Linked DNA regions of Homo sapiens: region 1 is linked to region 2. The links come from fine-mapping of genetic effects on gene expression. A gene starts in region 2. The other region holds a variant in brackets. All regions are shown on one strand. Distances are from middle to middle.

Evidence for each region.
Region 1: its variant is fine-mapped to the expression of VEGFA in whole blood (TOPMed, PIP above 0.99).

The regions. Positions count from the first base shown.
Region 1 is chr6:44,056,081-44,061,442 of GRCh38, forward strand. All of the region lies in intron 1 of SCIRT (stem cell inhibitory RNA transcript), which reads right to left. Among named protein-coding and RNA genes, the nearest start is that of SCIRT, 16 kb to the right of the region's middle. RefSeq lists an enhancer at 2,484-2,663 and a silencer at 2,964-3,033. The variant A/C (reference allele first, on the strand shown) is at 2,917.
Region 2 is chr6:43,767,787-43,773,148 of GRCh38, forward strand. VEGFA (vascular endothelial growth factor A) reads left to right here and starts at 2,425. Exons shown (of 8, transcript NM_003376.6): 1 at 2,425-3,526. The coding sequence starts at 2,921. RefSeq lists silencers at 2,238-2,487, 2,865-3,804, 3,875-4,394 and enhancers at 2,850-3,615, 3,616-4,381, 4,382-5,147, 5,148-5,362.

The DNA of each region.
Region 1 (5,362 bases), 290 kb after region 2:
CACCTGCTGTGTGCCAGGCCTGATGCTGATGTTTTATCTGCACTTGCCCCATTTAGTCTTCAAGGTAGGTATCGCTCTCCCATTACACAGATAAGAAAGCTGAGGCCTAGAGATGAGTGTCCAAAGTCACCCAGAGAGCAAACAGAGAAGCTCGGGTTGGAATTCAAGACTCCCATCCCTCAGAATCTGTGATCTTTCCTCAGGAGCAGGGTGTGCTCCTTGGCCGTTAATGTCACAAACACTGGGGGGGCTTTTTCTTAATGCAGCATCCTAAGACCCTCCCTAGAGCTAGAGAAGCAGAGTCTCTGGGTGGGATCCAAGAGTCTACCCCTGAATAAAATAGCTGCCTCTGGCCTTGGACCTCCTTTAACCTAACACAGCCCCTATTGCAGACAACTGGACCCTGAAGAAGGAGAAAGGAGATGGAGCCCAGTCAATCTGCACGCTTACCTCCAAGGGGATGGATGCAACACCACTTCTGTGCCCCCTTCATCCCCAGGATCCCTCGCTCTCTCCTGGTGCTTGGGCCCCAACAGGCAGAGTGGGACAAAGGAGGGCAAGGAAACATCTCCAATATGTTTTCCAAAGCACGGTGGGTGAGAGGAGCAAGAGGGTCAATGGGGCCTACCTCCTCTGTCCATTGAGGGATACAAGTGAAATGCGGAGGGACTGATACCCTGGACAGTACCCAGGGGCTCCATCAACTGGGGGCGGAAGACCAGTTCTGGGGGTGGGGGAGGTTCTTTCAGACTGGCCCTGCTGCCTGCAGCACGAGGAAGACCCTCTGTCCACTCCTACATCTCCCCCAAACCCCCATGGATGTGATTGGACAGCCGCCCCAGGCACTCTGTGCTGCGGGGGCAGCAGACGCTTGGTCCTCAGTGAGGAGTGGAGAGGGATCAGCATACATCACATCACACTTGGCACGGCCCCCATTGGTGGGCAGCATGCCACCGTGTTGGTGAGCTGTCTCCCTGCAGAGCCTTCACAGGCGGCAAGGGAGGGGCTTCCAGGGGAATCACTGCCTATCAGGAGTGGCACAGCCCCAGGAAGCCCCCCGGACCATCCCTAGTTCCTGCCTTGCCTGGGCCCAACCAGAGCTGGGCTGAGGAAGGGAAAAGGGAGAAGGGCACTGGGGCTGGGAGATGAATTCCAGGCTGGGCCATGCTGGGGACCTCAGGCCACAACCAAGGGCTCGATCCCAGAGGGAGAGGCCTCCCACTAATCACATTCAGGTGACCGGAAGCTCTGAGGCTCTGGACCCTGCTTCCTGGAGATGTTAGGGAGGAGAGGGAGAGAGGAGTCCCTTGGCTCTGGGCCAGTCCACAGACTTCTCCCCAGAGGCCCAAGGGCTGTTGGGGGGGGATAGAAGACCCACTATCAACTCCCACGTCCACCCACACCCAAATAATGCCTCAGTCTACAAGAAGCCAGGTCCCATAGAGTTGAGGGAGCTCACAGTCTGAAGGAGGAGACACTTCCTGCTGTCTGGGATCTGCCAGTCTGAGGGCAGAGACGTAGCCACTCCCTTCCAGAACATCAACCTCCCAGTCTCCTCATTGTCTCCAAACAGGGCTAACACTCTTCTGTCATCCCTTTCATCCTGATCTCAGTCCTTCCAGACTCAAATCACTGCCCTCCTCATCCTCAGAGCCTTCCTGGATGACCACACAGCTCCAATCCTCCACCCTGGCACTCTTAGAGCAGTTAATTTGGTGGTGGACAGATAATTCCTAATGGCATGCAAAGAACTCATATTTCCTAGGCACCACCTGTACCAGAGGCCTGGTGGCAGGACCTTGATCATGCAAACATGACATGATCCAGGCATGCAGGGAGCTTCCAGTTCAGGAACATTAGGACGGACCAAGAAGATACAGTGAACTGTCAGTTAAACATCATCTTTTCCCAGACATTTCTGCGTGTGTGTGTGCGCGCGCGTGCGTGTGTGTCCCCAGCTAGGCTGGGACTTTGTTAGAGCAAGACAGGAACTGAGCTTAAATATCAGGCCACACCCCCATCTAAACTAAGTCCCTAGGATATTCTCCCAGAGCCCCATGTAATTTTCCCTCTTGGCACACATTACAGTTTGTAATTCTTTTTGGTGTGACTACTTGCTTTAAGACTCTCCTTTTCCAGGCTCTATAAGAGTAGCTGAGTCCATGGCTTCACCCGTGTATCTTGAGCACCTGGCATATTTGATGACTGAATGAATGATTTGAATGAAAGCACCACATTCCTATTCATGCCCTTGCCCCTAGCACACAACCTGTAGGTGCTCAGTGCTCAGATTTGGCAGGATGGCAAAGTAAAAAGAAGCCCATCTTGCCACAGCTAGGAATTCAAGGTCAATCCCAGAGCAATCCCAAGGCAGTTCATCAAGGAAGACTTCCTGGTGGAGGAGGACATGGACTGGGGACTTTCAGCCTCACATCTGTTCTTCCAGTTCATCATCTGTTTCTGGCAGGAACTCCTGAGGACAGAGGTTACGTCTGGGTCTCAGGGCCATCCCCAGCACACCCCCATTCAAGCTGCGCATGACCTGCCCCACTGTCGACAGCCAGCTGTGACTCACAACTCCTGAGCCTTTCCTCTTGGCCAGAGATCGTGGAGTAGATATTACAGTAACATTACTAACCACAAGTAGAGGCGGTGACCGTACTTACGCTCAGAGCACCTCCCCCCACCCCTGAGACCAGAGCAATGACCTCACACTCATGTTCGGCAGCAAGCACGGACAGTCCTGCCCGGAGGCAGGGGGATGGCCCACATGGCCCTGGTCTTCCAGAGAAGCCCAGCGTCTGGCCTCTTCCCCTCAGCGCTGGTCACATTCTCCCCACCTTCCCCTCCAAGCAGCCCACCTGGGGTAGGTGCTGAGTCCCCTGCTGCTGCCTCCCCCGGGTGAAAGCAGAGTAA[A/C]CAGTCCCCCTCTCCCCCGCCTCCCTGGGGAGGGCTGGAGGAAAGAAAGGGAAGTGACAAAAGCTGCCCTATCCCTGTCCTTCCTCACTGCTGGGTCTAGGACACTTATTCTGGGGAAAGTGGCGTCTGAGGATGTGGCTGCAGTGGCCAGTTGCTGGCGCCAGCAGAAATCCCCAAGCCCGTCAGTAGACTCTGTTCAGACGCGTTCGCTGACCATGGCACTGAGTAAGTGCTGAGGAGACACCTGAGGACCCAGGTCACGCCCCTGCCTGCCCTCTCCTCCCAGACAGGCCCCTCCTAGGGCTCAGACCATTCCAGTTCCTCTTGTCAGACCCTGAGAAGGCCCAGGGCATCCACCCCTACAGGGAAGGCTCAACAGGAAAGAAAGAAACACACAGGAACTGGGCTCAGAGCCCAGCTGCGTGCTCTTGGGCAAGTTACTTAACCTCTTTAGGCCTCAATTTCTCAACTATAAAATGGGACTAAGACTAGCTGCCTGTTGAGCTGTTGTGAGATAAGTGAGTGCACTGGCCTGGATCTGCAGACGGTGGACAACAGCCAACGGCAGCCGGATGTGGCATTGTGCTGCTGCCTTTAGCAGCTCCAGGCAGTAACTACTGAGTATCAGGGAAGAACTGAGACCTCAGAGAAGGGAGAGAACCAGGATTGCTTGAGGCAGGGCGTTGGGAAGGCCCCACTTACCCTCTGGCAGTTGCAATCTAAAAGGAACAAAGAGGCTTTGTGGCAGATCCTGTCTCCTAATATCCATTCCTCGTTTATTTCCCAACTTTTAGCCAGACCCCCATGGAATAAAGACTAGACTACCTAGCTTCCCTTGCAGCTAGGTATGGCTAGATGACTGAGTTCTGGCCAATGGAATATAAGTGTGACTTCTAGGAAGCTTCCTTGAAGGGAAGGGGCATGTCCTTCTTCAGGCTTTCTTCTTCCTTCCTGCTGGCTGGGGCTCCAGCAGCCATCTTGGGCAATGAGGTGACCCTGGAAATGGAAACCACACCTAGCAGGTCAGAAAGATAGAAGGAGTCTCTGACCACATCCCAGAAATATTTTACATGAGCAAAAAATTCACTATTTATCTTGTGTAAACCAAAATTTAACTGATACAAGCTTCTCCTCTGGTGAAATAATCTCGACTCATGTGTGGCTGGGCAGAGTAGGATGGATGAGGTGTCTAGAAGAGAAGAGTTACCAGGGGTGTGATGTCCCCATCCAGGAGCACTTCCTCCTACTTGCCCTGTGAGGTCAGGAGGAACCCTGTTGGGAGGACTTGGCTCCAGGAGGATGGATGGATGGATGGATGGATGGATGGATGGATGGATGGATGGATAGATAGATGGATGGAAAGGAGGGAAGAGCCCAGGTAAATGCATGAGATGAGGAGAAATACCTAGAAGGAGGAAATACCCTGGGAAAACACTTCAGATGACAGAGAGCCAGGCTAGGGGTGTGGGGATAGCAGAACAGGATGGCCTACCTGACTCACTGCCCAAGTCGGACTCTCAGTTTTCCCACCTGTGCTTTGGGAATGGGCCTTATCGCCTCACTCAGGGCCAGCGTGAAGTGATTCAAAAACCAAACCAAAACTAAACAGAGAATCAGTGTAGCATTAAATCCGTTGTCAGCCCAGACAAAACCCTTCTCTGTGCCTGGGATTCCTATAAAGTAAGGATACCCGTGGACCCCACCTCACCTGGCTGTTGTGAGTATTCAGCGAAAGGGCTACTGTAATGTGCTCATCACAGTGTCTGGCACAAGGCAAGTGCTCAGTAAGCAGTCAGTGCTATTATTGCTGCTGTTGAAATCCTGCCCTGGGGTGTGAGGAACAAGAAGCTGCCACTTGATTGGTCTGTGGCATGAGTTAGGGAAAGAAACCTGGACTCCTCACTCCAGAATAATATCTCCAGCGCTTTGGGGACCTAAAGGACCAGGTAATGCCTTGGGAGCACCACACCATAAACACACATCAGGATCCTGACGGCATAAGATGGAATGGGGGTAGTAGGGAGACCTGGCAGGGTGGGGGCAGCCAAGGCTTAAATTTTGGTACCACTGCCTGGGACCCCTGGAGGGACAGCTGTCAGGTCAGGCCCTGACCCCCAAGCTCTCCTCCTTGGCCAGGCCAGGTCCACATTTGGTCACAAGAAGCTGGCAAGAGGCCAGACAGGGCCGCAGATGCCATGGAGAGGGCAAACACAGGCCCGACGGAAAGGGGGAAAAAATCGGGCTTGTTCTGCCTGGGCAAGAGCAGGCTCAGGGGTGACATCAACGCCATGATAAGCAGTTAGATGAGTTAATGCCCAGGGATGCTTTTCCTGAAGTTCCCCAGAGAAAGTTGGGGGTTAAATGATGAGTGTGTTGGCAGATTTGTACCCTCAAAAAATTACGAGTGTGACCACTGTTAACAATGAGCAGGGACTTTAAGAGGAGA
Region 2 (5,362 bases):
AAAAACCCCTAGGCCAGGTTGTAATCCTAGCCTTATATAAAAGGAATTCTGTGCCCTCACTCCCCTGGATCCCTGGGCAAAGCCCCAGAGGGAAACACAAACAGGTTGTTGTAACACACCTTGCTGGGTACCACCATGGAGGACAGTTGGCTTATGGGGGTGGGGGGTGCCTGGGGCCACGGAGTGACTGGTGATGGCTATCCCTCCTTGGAACCCCTCCAGCCTCCTCTTAGCTTCAGATTTGTTTATTTGTTTTTTACTAAGACCTGCTCTTTCAGGTCTGTTGGCTCTTTTAGGGGCTGAAGAAGGCCGAGTTGAGAAGGGATGCAAGGGAGGGGGCCAGAATGAGCCCTTAGGGCTCAGAGCCTCCATCCTGCCCCAAGATGTCTACAGCTTGTGCTCCTGGGGTGCTAGAGGCGCACAAGGAGGAAAGTTAGTGGCTTCCCTTCCATATCCCGTTCATCAGCCTAGAGCATGGAGCCCAGGTGAGGAGGCCTGCCTGGGAGGGGGCCCTGAGCCAGGAAATAAACATTTACTAACTGTACAAAGACCTTGTCCCTGCTGCTGGGGAGCCTGCCAAGTGGTGGAGACAGGACTAGTGCACGAATGATGGAAAGGGAGGGTTGGGGTGGGTGGGAGCCAGCCCTTTTCCTCATAAGGGCCTTAGGACACCATACCGATGGAACTGGGGGTACTGGGGAGGTAACCTAGCACCTCCACCAAACCACAGCAACATGTGCTGAGGATGGGGCTGACTAGGTAAGCTCCCTGGAGCGTTTTGGTTAAATTGAGGGAAATTGCTGCATTCCCATTCTCAGTCCATGCCTCCACAGAGGCTATGCCAGCTGTAGGCCAGACCCTGGCAAGATCTGGGTGGATAATCAGACTGACTGGTCCCACTCTTCCCACAGGCCTCAGAGCCCCAACTTTGTTCCCTGGGGCAGCCTGGAAATAGCCAGGTCAGAAACCAGCTAGGAATTTTTCCAAGCTGCTTCCTATATGCAAGAATGGGATGGGGCCTTTGGGAGCACTTAGGGAAGATGTGGAGAGTTGGAGGAAAAGGGGGCTTGGAGGTAAGGGAGGGGACTGGGGGAAGGATAGGGGAGAAGCTGTGAGCCTGGAGAAGTAGCCAAGGGATCCTGAGGGAATGGGGGAGCTGAGACGAAACCCCCATTTCTATTCAGAAGATGAGCTATGAGTCTGGGCTTGGGCTGATAGAAGCCTTGGCCCCTGGCCTGGTGGGAGCTCTGGGCAGCTGGCCTACAGACGTTCCTTAGTGCTGGCGGGTAGGTTTGAATCATCACGCAGGCCCTGGCCTCCACCCGCCCCCACCAGCCCCCTGGCCTCAGTTCCCTGGCAACATCTGGGGTTGGGGGGGCAGCAGGAACAAGGGCCTCTGTCTGCCCAGCTGCCTCCCCCTTTGGGTTTTGCCAGACTCCACAGTGCATACGTGGGCTCCAACAGGTCCTCTTCCCTCCCAGTCACTGACTAACCCCGGAACCACACAGCTTCCCGTTCTCAGCTCCACAAACTTGGTGCCAAATTCTTCTCCCCTGGGAAGCATCCCTGGACACTTCCCAAAGGACCCCAGTCACTCCAGCCTGTTGGCTGCCGCTCACTTTGATGTCTGCAGGCCAGATGAGGGCTCCAGATGGCACATTGTCAGAGGGACACACTGTGGCCCCTGTGCCCAGCCCTGGGCTCTCTGTACATGAAGCAACTCCAGTCCCAAATATGTAGCTGTTTGGGAGGTCAGAAATAGGGGGTCCAGGAGCAAACTCCCCCCACCCCCTTTCCAAAGCCCATTCCCTCTTTAGCCAGAGCCGGGGTGTGCAGACGGCAGTCACTAGGGGGCGCTCGGCCACCACAGGGAAGCTGGGTGAATGGAGCGAGCAGCGTCTTCGAGAGTGAGGACGTGTGTGTCTGTGTGGGTGAGTGAGTGTGTGCGTGTGGGGTTGAGGGCGTTGGAGCGGGGAGAAGGCCAGGGGTCACTCCAGGATTCCAATAGATCTGTGTGTCCCTCTCCCCACCCGTCCCTGTCCGGCTCTCCGCCTTCCCCTGCCCCCTTCAATATTCCTAGCAAAGAGGGAACGGCTCTCAGGCCCTGTCCGCACGTAACCTCACTTTCCTGCTCCCTCCTCGCCAATGCCCCGCGGGCGCGTGTCTCTGGACAGAGTTTCCGGGGGCGGATGGGTAATTTTCAGGCTGTGAACCTTGGTGGGGGTCGAGCTTCCCCTTCATTGCGGCGGGCTGCGGGCCAGGCTTCACTGAGCGTCCGCAGAGCCCGGGCCCGAGCCGCGTGTGGAAGGGCTGAGGCTCGCCTGTCCCCGCCCCCCGGGGCGGGCCGGGGGCGGGGTCCCGGCGGGGCGGAGCCATGCGCCCCCCCCTTTTTTTTTTAAAAGTCGGCTGGTAGCGGGGAGGATCGCGGAGGCTTGGGGCAGCCGGGTAGCTCGGAGGTCGTGGCGCTGGGGGCTAGCACCAGCGCTCTGTCGGGAGGCGCAGCGGTTAGGTGGACCGGTCAGCGGACTCACCGGCCAGGGCGCTCGGTGCTGGAATTTGATATTCATTGATCCGGGTTTTATCCCTCTTCTTTTTTCTTAAACATTTTTTTTTAAAACTGTATTGTTTCTCGTTTTAATTTATTTTTGCTTGCCATTCCCCACTTGAATCGGGCCGACGGCTTGGGGAGATTGCTCTACTTCCCCAAATCACTGTGGATTTTGGAAACCAGCAGAAAGAGGAAAGAGGTAGCAAGAGCTCCAGAGAGAAGTCGAGGAAGAGAGAGACGGGGTCAGAGAGAGCGCGCGGGCGTGCGAGCAGCGAAAGCGACAGGGGCAAAGTGAGTGACCTGCTTTTGGGGGTGACCGCCGGAGCGCGGCGTGAGCCCTCCCCCTTGGGATCCCGCAGCTGACCAGTCGCGCTGACGGACAGACAGACAGACACCGCCCCCAGCCCCAGCTACCACCTCCTCCCCGGCCGGCGGCGGACAGTGGACGCGGCGGCGAGCCGCGGGCAGGGGCCGGAGCCCGCGCCCGGAGGCGGGGTGGAGGGGGTCGGGGCTCGCGGCGTCGCACTGAAACTTTTCGTCCAACTTCTGGGCTGTTCTCGCTTCGGAGGAGCCGTGGTCCGCGCGGGGGAAGCCGAGCCGAGCGGAGCCGCGAGAAGTGCTAGCTCGGGCCGGGAGGAGCCGCAGCCGGAGGAGGGGGAGGAGGAAGAAGAGAAGGAAGAGGAGAGGGGGCCGCAGTGGCGACTCGGCGCTCGGAAGCCGGGCTCATGGACGGGTGAGGCGGCGGTGTGCGCAGACAGTGCTCCAGCCGCGCGCGCTCCCCAGGCCCTGGCCCGGGCCTCGGGCCGGGGAGGAAGAGTAGCTCGCCGAGGCGCCGAGGAGAGCGGGCCGCCCCACAGCCCGAGCCGGAGAGGGAGCGCGAGCCGCGCCGGCCCCGGTCGGGCCTCCGAAACCATGAACTTTCTGCTGTCTTGGGTGCATTGGAGCCTTGCCTTGCTGCTCTACCTCCACCATGCCAAGGTAAGCGGTCGTGCCCTGCTGGCGCCGCGGGCCGCTGCGAGCGCCTCTCCCGGCTGGGGACGTGCGTGCGAGCGCGCGCGTGGGGGCTCCGTGCCCCACGCGGGTCCATGGGCACCAGGCGTGCGGCGTCCCCCTCTGTCGTCTTAGGTGCAGGGGGAGGGGGCGCGCGCGCTAGGTGGGAGGGTACCCGGAGAGAGGCTCACCGCCCACGCGGGCCCTGCCCACCCACCGGAGTCACCGCACGTACGATCTGGGCCGACCAGCCGAGGGCGGGAGCCGGAGGAGGAGGCCGAGGGGGCTGGGCTTGCGTTGCCGCTGCCGGCTGAAGTTTGCTCCCGGCCGCTGGTCCCGGACGAACTGGAAGTCTGAGCAGCGGGGGCGGGAGCCAGAGACCAGTGGGCAGGGGGTGCTCGGACCTTGGACCGCGGGAGGGCAGAGAGCGTGGAGGGGGCAGGGCGCAGGAGGGAGAGGGGGCTTGCTGTCACTGCCACTCGGTCTCTTCAGCCCTCGCCGCGAGTTTGGGAAAAGTTTTGGGGTGGATTGCTGCGGGGACCCCCCCTCCCTGCTGGGCCACCTGCGCCGCGCCAACCCCGCCCGTCCCCGCTCGCGTCCCGCTCGGTGCCCGCCCTCCCCCGCCCGGCCGGGTGCGCGCGGCGCGGAGCCGATTACATCAGCCCGGGCCTGGCCGGCCGCGTGTTCCCGGAGCCTCGGCTGCCCGAATGGGGAGCCCAGAGTGGCGAGCGGCACCCCTCCCCCCGCCAGCCCTCCGCGGGAAGGTGACCTCTCGAGGTAGCCCCAGCCCGGGGATCCAGAGAACCATCCCTACCCCTTCCTACTGTCTCCAGACCCTACCTCTGCCCAGTGCTAGGAGGAATTTCCTGACGCCCCTTCTCTTCACCCATTTCCTTTTTAGCCTGGAGAGAAGCCCCTGTCACCCCGCTTATTTTCATTTCTCTCTGCGGAGAAGATCCATCTAACCCCTTTCTGGCCCCAGAGTCCAGGGAAAGGATGATCACTGTCAGAAGTCGTGGCGCGGGAGCCCACTGGGCGCTTTGTCACATTCCACCGAAAGTCCCGACTTGGTGACAGTGTGCTTCCCTTCCCTCGCCAACAGTTCCGAGTGAGCTGTGCTTTAGCTCTCGTGGGGGTGGGTCAAGGGAGGATTTGAAGAGTCATTGCCCCACTTTACCCTTTTGGAGAAATGGCTTGAAATTTGCTGTGACACGGGCAGCATGGGAATAGTCCTTCCTGAACCCTGGAAAGGAGCTCCTGCCAGCCTTGCACACACTTTGTCCTGGTGAAAGGCAGCCCTGGAGCAGGTGTTTTTTTGGAACTCCAAACCTGCCCACCCAACTTGCTTCTGAAAGGGACTCTAAAGGGTCCCTTTCCGCTCCTCTCTGACGCCTTCCCTCAGCCAGAATTCCCTTGGAGAGGAGGCAAGAGGAAAGCCATGGACAGGGGTCGCTGCTAACACCGCAAGTTCCTCAGACCCTGGCACAAAGGCCTTGGCTACAGGCCTCCAAGTAGGGAGGAGGGGGAGGAGTGGCTGCCTGGCCACAGTGTGACCTTCAGAGGCCCCCAGAGAAGGACACCTGGCCCCTGCCTGCCTAGAACCGCCCCTCCTGTGCTCCCTGGCCTTGGAAGGGGTATGAAATTTCCGTCCCCTTTCCTCCTTGGGGCCCAGGAGGAGTGGAGGGTCCCGGGAGAATATTGTCAGGGGGAAGGCAGGGGGTGTCATGGGAATGGGTGAGGGGGCTGAGGTGCAGAATCCAGGGGGTCCCTGCAGGAGCCGCAGTGGTAAGCTGTCCAGCTGGAAGCCTGGTAACTGTTGTTTTC